2 linked regions of the Homo sapiens genome follow. The protein of the gene in region 2 purifies or fractionates together with the protein of the main gene of each other region. This does not show direct contact. Each region holds a gene or a part of one and is shown on either strand. Other genes may lie near its edges. The genes, in order: P4HA3 and ZDHHC8.

Region 1 (3,808 bases), on a different chromosome or scaffold from region 2:
TCCATGGTTTTTTTTCAAATATTTTCAATCCGAGGTGGAATCCACAGATGGGGAACACATGGATGTGGAGGGCCAACTGTACTCTCCCTTTTTTCCCACTCAGCATTATAATGTAAGAATATTCTCAGTTGGGAAAAATGATTTATAAACATTTTTAATGACTGTGTTAAAAAACCATCATACAAAAAGAAAAGAAAGTTGTTTTCAACTTAAAAAAAATCCTTATATAATGTACCACTCATCTGGGATATGCTTCTGGGAGGGGGACACTCCCTGCTTGGGCTGCAGCAGAAGGCAGTGGGGAGAAAGTCTTAAAGTTCTGGGAGTCAGGCTAGCCCCTCCTGCAGGTGTCCTCATTGCCACTTCTTGGTCCCTGTGGTCAAGGTTCAAAGTGCCAAAAGACCCACTGATCGAACCTGAGACTGTTGAGATGTCCTGTTCCCAACAGAGAGTATCTGAACTCCAGAAACTTCCCTCTCAGGCCTCCACTCCCCCCTCCTTTGTACTGTGCATCCTACTCTGACTTCCGTGGCTGGGGCAGATCAAATGTACATTCTCAGTGTCCCCTGGTAACAACCTCTCCCTTGCCTCTGATTTGCGAGGCACAGACAAAGCTGACAAGGCCTTCTTCCAGGAGGCTGCTCTGCTTTCTCCTCTCCTACCCCAGCTTTTGGCTCCTGGCTTCTCTGGAAAGCCACAGGACTCCACCAGCTTCTCTCTGCCAACAGTTCAGTCTTCAGGGCTGGAGCTGCAGGGTCTGCGGAATTCCTGTCCATACTCATGTATCCACTTGTTGGCCACTGGGAGAGAACAGGGAAGAAGGAGACAGCAGGCTCAGCAGAACAGACAGCAGCAATGCTGCAGACTGGTGCGCACTCATAGGCGCGTGTGAGTGCCCCCTTAAATTCTGCATCCTAGGTAACTCACTTGCCCAGCCTAGTCCTGGCCTCACTATGGACTACAAGCTGTTTCTTCCAGCAGATAAATAGCAAAGAGGACATTGTCCTCTGGAAAAAAGTCACAGGTCCTGTCTCCTGTAAACTCATTTTCAAACGTTTGGGAACTAAGATCACTCACCCTTCATTTTAGAAGCCCATGTTCCCCATGAAGCCATTCCAGAGTACTGAGAGAAAAACGGGTGGCATCTCCTGGCAGCCTCCACCTCAGCTTATGAGCCCCCTTCCACTTCTCTTTCTGTTTCAGAGCTAAGTGCTCCTGGATGTATATGTGACATAAACACGTCCATCTGCTTATTGATCTCTTCTTTGTTTTCCCACCTCCTCATGGGGAGCACTAAACAGGAGAGACAATGGCTTGACACATCTTTCCTTGGGGTAGAGTGTGGATGGGACACCATATTCCTCTCTGGCAGTGCTCAGGAATCAAGGCCTATCTGGTCAGGTGAATAAACCTTTACTGACTGTCACTCTGTAACAGGAACCCCTGCCTGTTATAGGCTCCCAGTCTGTTGGGGGCACCTCATTCATAATCTGATCTTCTCAATATAATGTGGCACTGTAATGAAGCGTTTGGAATGGGATGGCTGTGGTAGGTCCCACCCATCCCCTGTTTCACTCTACTCTGCACCCTGTACCCCCTTCTCATGCCCAGAAAGGCAAGACTTACCCCACTTATCTCCCACCAGGACAGGACAGCCAGCATGAAGTGTGTCACTGTCCCCTTCACCACTCCTGTGCAGGTTCCACCAAAACAGTGCTGCATTCTGAAACAAGAGGGCCCAGCCCCAGGGAGGGTCAGCCCAGAACCTCAGTCCTCGGGAAGCACATACTAAGGACAAATGCAGGCATGTCATTGAAGAAGCCTTTCCATGCAGTCTGGGGGCAATGCATGCATAAAATGGCACAAAATGGCATAAGTTGCCATTTACTCCTTCATGCATGGGTCACTGACAGAGTCCCCTGCACCCCAGGTCCTGGGGCTGCAGGGACAAATTACGTCCAGTTCTGCTCTCCAGGAGCTCACAAGAAACAGACATAAAACAGACCTGAACAAGACAGCATGGTGAGTTCTGGGAGAAAGGTGAGCACATTTGTCATTGGGTCACTGAGGAGAAACACCGAACAAAACCACAAGGTGGAACAAAATATTCCCATACAGCCAAGCATGTCATTAACTCAGAAGCTTTTCCTCCCTCAGGCACTTATGATTAACACTTTCAGGGAGCAGGCAGTATCATAATCCCCAGTTTCCTAGCAAAGAACTTGAGGCCCAGGGCTTTAAATAATGCAATAAAAGAAGGAGCAAAGTGAGGACTCAAGCCCAGGTGTTCTGACGCTAAATCCTGTATGTTTTTCCCCCATACACGGCTTCTTTGCCGTATCTACTTCCTGTAGTCAAATTACTTTAACCTTGGTCCTCAAAGTAGACAAAACTCCAGGTCATGAAGAGCTTTCCAGGATGCATTGGCAGTCTCTATGTTCCTAAGCCTACAAGAGGCGTCAAGCTCCTGAGTATTCAGAGATACCTGGCATTGATTATCGAATGCTCAGGATGTGCCAGGCACTGTACTACCTGCTTTACAGGAATGATCTCGTTTAGTTATCTTCATTTCATTCCTAAATTAGGTAAGGGCTGCCAGGGAGTTGGACTGATCTGAAATTTGGAGGAAATACTCATTCATGAAGCAAACCTCTTAGACTCAGTTCTCCTCAGCGCCTATCCTTTCCAAATCCCTATTGCAACATCATAATGCCTGCTGACGTCTCTGTAAACTCCTGGATCAAAGGGCTATGAATTTCCCTCTGCACCCTCCGTGCCTCTAGCTCTCAATGTGGACTGAACTAATGATGGAAGGAACTAGATGCTGTAGAGGATCCAAAGTAAATAAAACAGAGCTCTTATCTTGAGGAGCTGTACTGTGACAGGGAAGACAGACATGTAATCATCTACTTGCAATATAAGTGTAAATAAAATAACAAATAGAGGCACAAGTGACGAGCATGTGTGCGGTAGTAAAGAAGACTATGGGATGATCTGTGATTCTGGGAATTGGGGAAGACCTCTTTTTGGCCCTCCTCCCAGGAATGGGCTTGCAAGCACAGACAGCGTGAAGGTTAGAGGGTAAGCGCTGCACTCCCTCAACCCCGTCTTCTGGGACCAGGGCCCCACTCACCCTAACCACAGGCACGCTGAGGTTGGCATAGATGAAGGCTGTGGCTCCTCCAGCTTCCACCGAGCTCAGCTACAAGACCAGAGGAAGAAGCCAGAGTTAAAACTGCCACCGACTTCCCTACCCTGTCATATGATGTCACATCTGCATAGATTCCTTCTCATGGTCTTTTCTTCAACTCTGAGAGAAATACTTGAAAGACAATCATCCAACTCAGGAGGAACTTCGGGAGCCTACTCAATGGCATTGGTGTTTGCCTACAGGGCCACAAGAGGACAATGTTTTGGTATTCTTCCTTTCTTTCCCTTCCAGCTAACATCCTTATTGAGGGCTACAATAAGTAGATTCAAACTTTTTGACTGAGACCCTTAGGAAAAAATACATTTTAAATAATGACCCAAGACACACACACATACACACACACACAGACACATACACACACACACCTCCTGAAATATAATTGTCATAAAACATTCTTAATATCTGAGATAGCTTCTGATCTTCTCTACTTTATTTTATTCTATTCTAGTGTGGTTCTCTTAAATGCTCATCAGAACCACTAAATTAATCTCACAACCTATAATGGATCATGACTTGTGGCTTGAAAACCAGTTTAGACTATGATTCTTCTTGAAAGCTGGGCATCATAGGAACTACTTATTACACCTTTGGCATATT
Region 2 (3,660 bases):
AGCAAGACAGAGACGACGCGGACGTGGACTAGTGCAGCCGAGTTGTGGGGCCCCGTGCAGTCCCTGCCCTCTGGGCTTGGAGGGTTCACCTGGAAAGCAGGTGAGGGATGCAGAGCCTGCCTGGGGAGCAGCTGTGCTGTCACAGGACAGACAGATGTTGTCAGAACTGCCACCACCCTCCCGAGTCCCTGGGTCCCTCCTAGCCAGCACTGGCCACAGAGAGCATGGGGCAGCCAGGTGGGCACTGAATGGAGCCCCTGCCGTGCCCTGCACTGGGAGCCCAGCCACTCTGCCTGGCCTCATTCCTGCTCTCTCTCAGGAAAACGAGGGGCTGCCCTCCTGCCCACCAGCGCTGACCAACAGCAGCTGTATCTTTGCTACTTAAACCTTCTTGAGGCGAGAGCCCTTTGTCCCCGGGCTGCGATCCCTGCCTGGCTGCAATGCTGCCCACTTCTAGGTCTCGGGCTCCCCACTCATCACTCCCAGTGGCAGCCTCCTCCCCAACTCCACAAAAGCTGAACAGGTCCCACCCTGTGGGGTAGAGGAGACCCGCTCAGGGCTGGACTGCTGTGCCCTCAGCCCCTTTGTGGCCAAGTGGCCTGGGCTGGGCTGGGCTGGGCTCTCCCTCTGGGGCTGCATCTGCCGACGGGAAACAACTGCGCCTGTGCTTGAGGTTTCCAGGCCCGGACAGGGCGACAGATGCCGTGAGGACACCATGCGTCTGTGGCGTGGGTCCTGGCCCCAGCAGGTGTGCAGCTCTCCTACCTGGACCTGGGCCTGTGAGCCAGCTGACCCCGCCTTCTCAGTCACCAACCTGCCGGGTGCCTGGAGCCAGCCTGCTTTCTCCAGTCCTCAGCTTCCCCACCTACGAGCAGGGAAGCCCCTGCTTCCTAGAACTATGTCCTACAGGGAGGGCCAGGGCCCGGCCACTCAGGGTGGCACATTCTGCTGCTAGGTAATATCCTCAGCCCCAGCCTCCTAGAGATGCAGCCAAGCAGGCCCAGGGAGAGCCCTGGGTGGACAGGGCCACTGTGACCCAGGAAGCCAGAGCCACAGCCTAAAGGAGGCCCAGGCTGCCACATGATACTGGCCCCAAAGAGAAAGCCCCATGGCCTCCCACATGCTGGGTCTGTGCCAGCTCTAGAAGAACGAGTCGTCGGGCTCAGGACACAAATTCTCATACCCTGTCCCCAGAGCGTGCCCAGGACATCCTCAGAGCTGGGCCACACGGGCTAGCCAAGGCCTTCAAGGCAGGGTGAGGCGCATCCTCCCTGTCCCGTCCCCAGAGAAAAACTCAGGCCCCTGGGATGACCTATGAGTGCCCAGCCAAGAGGGGCCCTGGAGACGGCTGGACAGCTGCCCTGTGCCAGGAAGCCCACCCGCACCTCCCGGCACCCACCTCTGCACGGTCAGCGAGGGCGGTGGCTCTGGGAGGTCCGTGTGGATGAAGGCGACAGCTTTGGGGCCCGCGTAGGATGGTGAGTGGGGAGTGCCGGGCGGGGAGGGCAGGCCCTGGCGTGCAGGTGACCTGTGTGAGCCACTGCTGGGCCGGGGCCCCGGGGCGTTGCTGCTGGCCTGATCAGCCTGCAGGGAGGAGGACGACGTCCGCGGTGCACGGCTCACGGAGCTGGACAGCGAGGACAGTGACGTCTGCAGGGCAGGGTTGCGGGCGCCACCGAAGCCGGGCCCAGCCACAAGGTCGTCTCTGGAGCCATAGCGCAGCGCGGGACCTCGGGGGCCCTCGGACAGCACACTGGCCTGCTGCAGGCTGTAGGAGCTGGGAGCGTCATAGACGCCTGAGTCGCCGAAGAGTGAGTCGGCCTGGGAGCGCAGCAGGCGCTCACGCTCCTCCCTGTCCTTGCGCTCCTGGATGGATGCCATGATGGTCCTGGACAGGTTGTCGTAGCGCACAGGCGAGGGCTCCCGGGGGCGGGGGCCCAGCACGGGGCTGAAGCTGCGGGGTAGGGGCCGTGGCGGGTCGCCCGTTGCCCCAGGATGCAGGTAGGGTGAGTGGTATCCGGCCACGCCAACTGCTGGGTGGGCAGGGCAGGCGTGGCCACCAGGCGAGCCAGGATTGAGCAGGCTGTCATAGGACAGGCTGCCGTTGCGGTTGGGCAGTGCATGGGGGGCAAAAATGCTACGGTGGGGCGTGGGGGGCCCCCCCTCAGAGCGCAGGGGCTGCAGGGCCACATGATCCCCGCCCCGCCGGCTCGAGGCCTTGAGGCTCAGGGAGCGCAAAGCGCCCGAGAAGGCATCAGAGGCGCTGAGCGGTGGGGATGGCGGGTAGGCTGCATGCAGGCCCCCTGGCCCATAGTCAGGGAGGTCCAGGCTCGGCTCGGACACAAAGTCCAGGCTACGGATGCTGTCGTCCCCCAGGGTCAGGGAATCAGGGCCTGGAACCTGTAGGGAGAAGGCATTCTCACCACTGCCCACCTGCCACCCCGCCTGCAGCCGCCAGTCAGCACCCACGGGGGCCACACATGGCACCGTGGCCTCAGGAACTGGGCCTCAAGGAGCCATAAGAGCCACATAGTGACCCATGGCCCTGTCCCTGAGCATCCACGGCTGAGGGGCAGGGGCTCTGCAACAGGAGGGAGGCCACAGCTGGCTACTGCAGACACCTGGGGTTCTGCCCTTGGAGCCATGCAGCCCCAGGGGCCCACCACTCAGGGCAGCCAGAGGGAGGAGGAGCCTCGTCTAGCCCCTGTGACGGGCACATAGGCATGGGCTTGGGCTTGGGCTTGGGACAAGAGCCTCAGGAACCACAAAGCCAGAAGTGGATCAGGGCAAATGTGGGCTCAATGCACTTGGCCAACCAGACCCAATCCCCCACTGGACCCAGGAGTCCCAGGAAGATGACATACCCAGAGCCCTCATCTCCAAACAGGGATGCCTCCTCCTGCGAGGCACGGCCCCTACATGCCTGCAGACTCAGACCCTTGGCCAAGGAGGCTCAGACTCACTGCTTCACCCAGTGACTCTCTCCAGGAAAGACATCAGTCCTGAGGGGAGAGGTCCCTGGGGATGGGGCTGGTCTAGGTGCACAGGGCCCAGTCACAGGCCTGCCTCTCGGGGTGGCCCAGAAGGAAGGATGGCACCCTGGGACTGTTTGGTGTTCCTGATCACTGCACAGACCGCCCCGCACTGCCCACCATTCCAGTGACCACAGAGCACTCATGCAACTCAGGGAAGAGAAATGTGCTTTCTCAAGCACGTCTCAAATTCTTCCAAAGTCTTCCCGTGGGCCTTACAGAGTGACTAATGGTGGAATTCCAGGCATCCTGGTACACAGTGCTCCTGGGGGCAGCCGCCCACCTGGCCTAGGGCAATGCTGGCCAAGGGACAGACGCCAAGCCTGGATGGCCCACGCCAGCCCCTCCCAGGACACCCTGCTCCCCTCTGTGGGTCCCAGCTCTGGGTGCACACAGACAGGGTCCTACCAGTCACACAAGGCCCTTGGTGACCCAGGCAGAGCCCTGAGGGGCATGGCCTCAGGGGATGTGGCCTCTGCTGGAGAGATGGGGCTCTGGAGGTGGGGCCTTCACGGGGTGAAGGCTGTGGGGCGAGCTCCTAGAGGCGGGCCTGGGGGACGAGGCCTGCCAGGGGGCAGGCTAGGCCTCCTTACCTGCTCGCCTGGTCCACAGAAGGGCACCTTGGGAC

Evidence for each region.
Region 1: the proteins of ZDHHC8 (region 2) and P4HA3 purify together in Homo sapiens (co-immunoprecipitation; one large-scale study listed by IntAct). This does not show direct contact.

The regions. Positions count from the first base shown.
Region 1 is NC_000011.10:74,266,519-74,270,326, forward strand, and holds the end of P4HA3 (prolyl 4-hydroxylase subunit alpha-3 isoform 1 precursor), read right to left. Parts: intron 3,203-3,808; coding exon 3,134-3,202; intron 1,724-3,133; coding exon 1,627-1,723; intron 1,294-1,626; exon of another isoform or gene 1,078-1,293; intron 801-1,077; coding exon 730-800; coding exon of another isoform or gene 543-729; 3' UTR 139-542; downstream 1-138. UniProt on the Homo sapiens protein: Catalyzes the post-translational formation of 4-hydroxyproline in -Xaa-Pro-Gly- sequences in collagens and other proteins.
Region 2 is NC_000022.11:20,141,496-20,145,155, reverse strand, and holds part of ZDHHC8 (palmitoyltransferase ZDHHC8), read right to left. Parts: coding exon 3,626-3,660; intron 2,401-3,625; coding exon 1,400-2,400; intron 1-1,399. UniProt on the Homo sapiens protein: Palmitoyltransferase that catalyzes the addition of palmitate onto various protein substrates and therefore functions in several unrelated biological processes.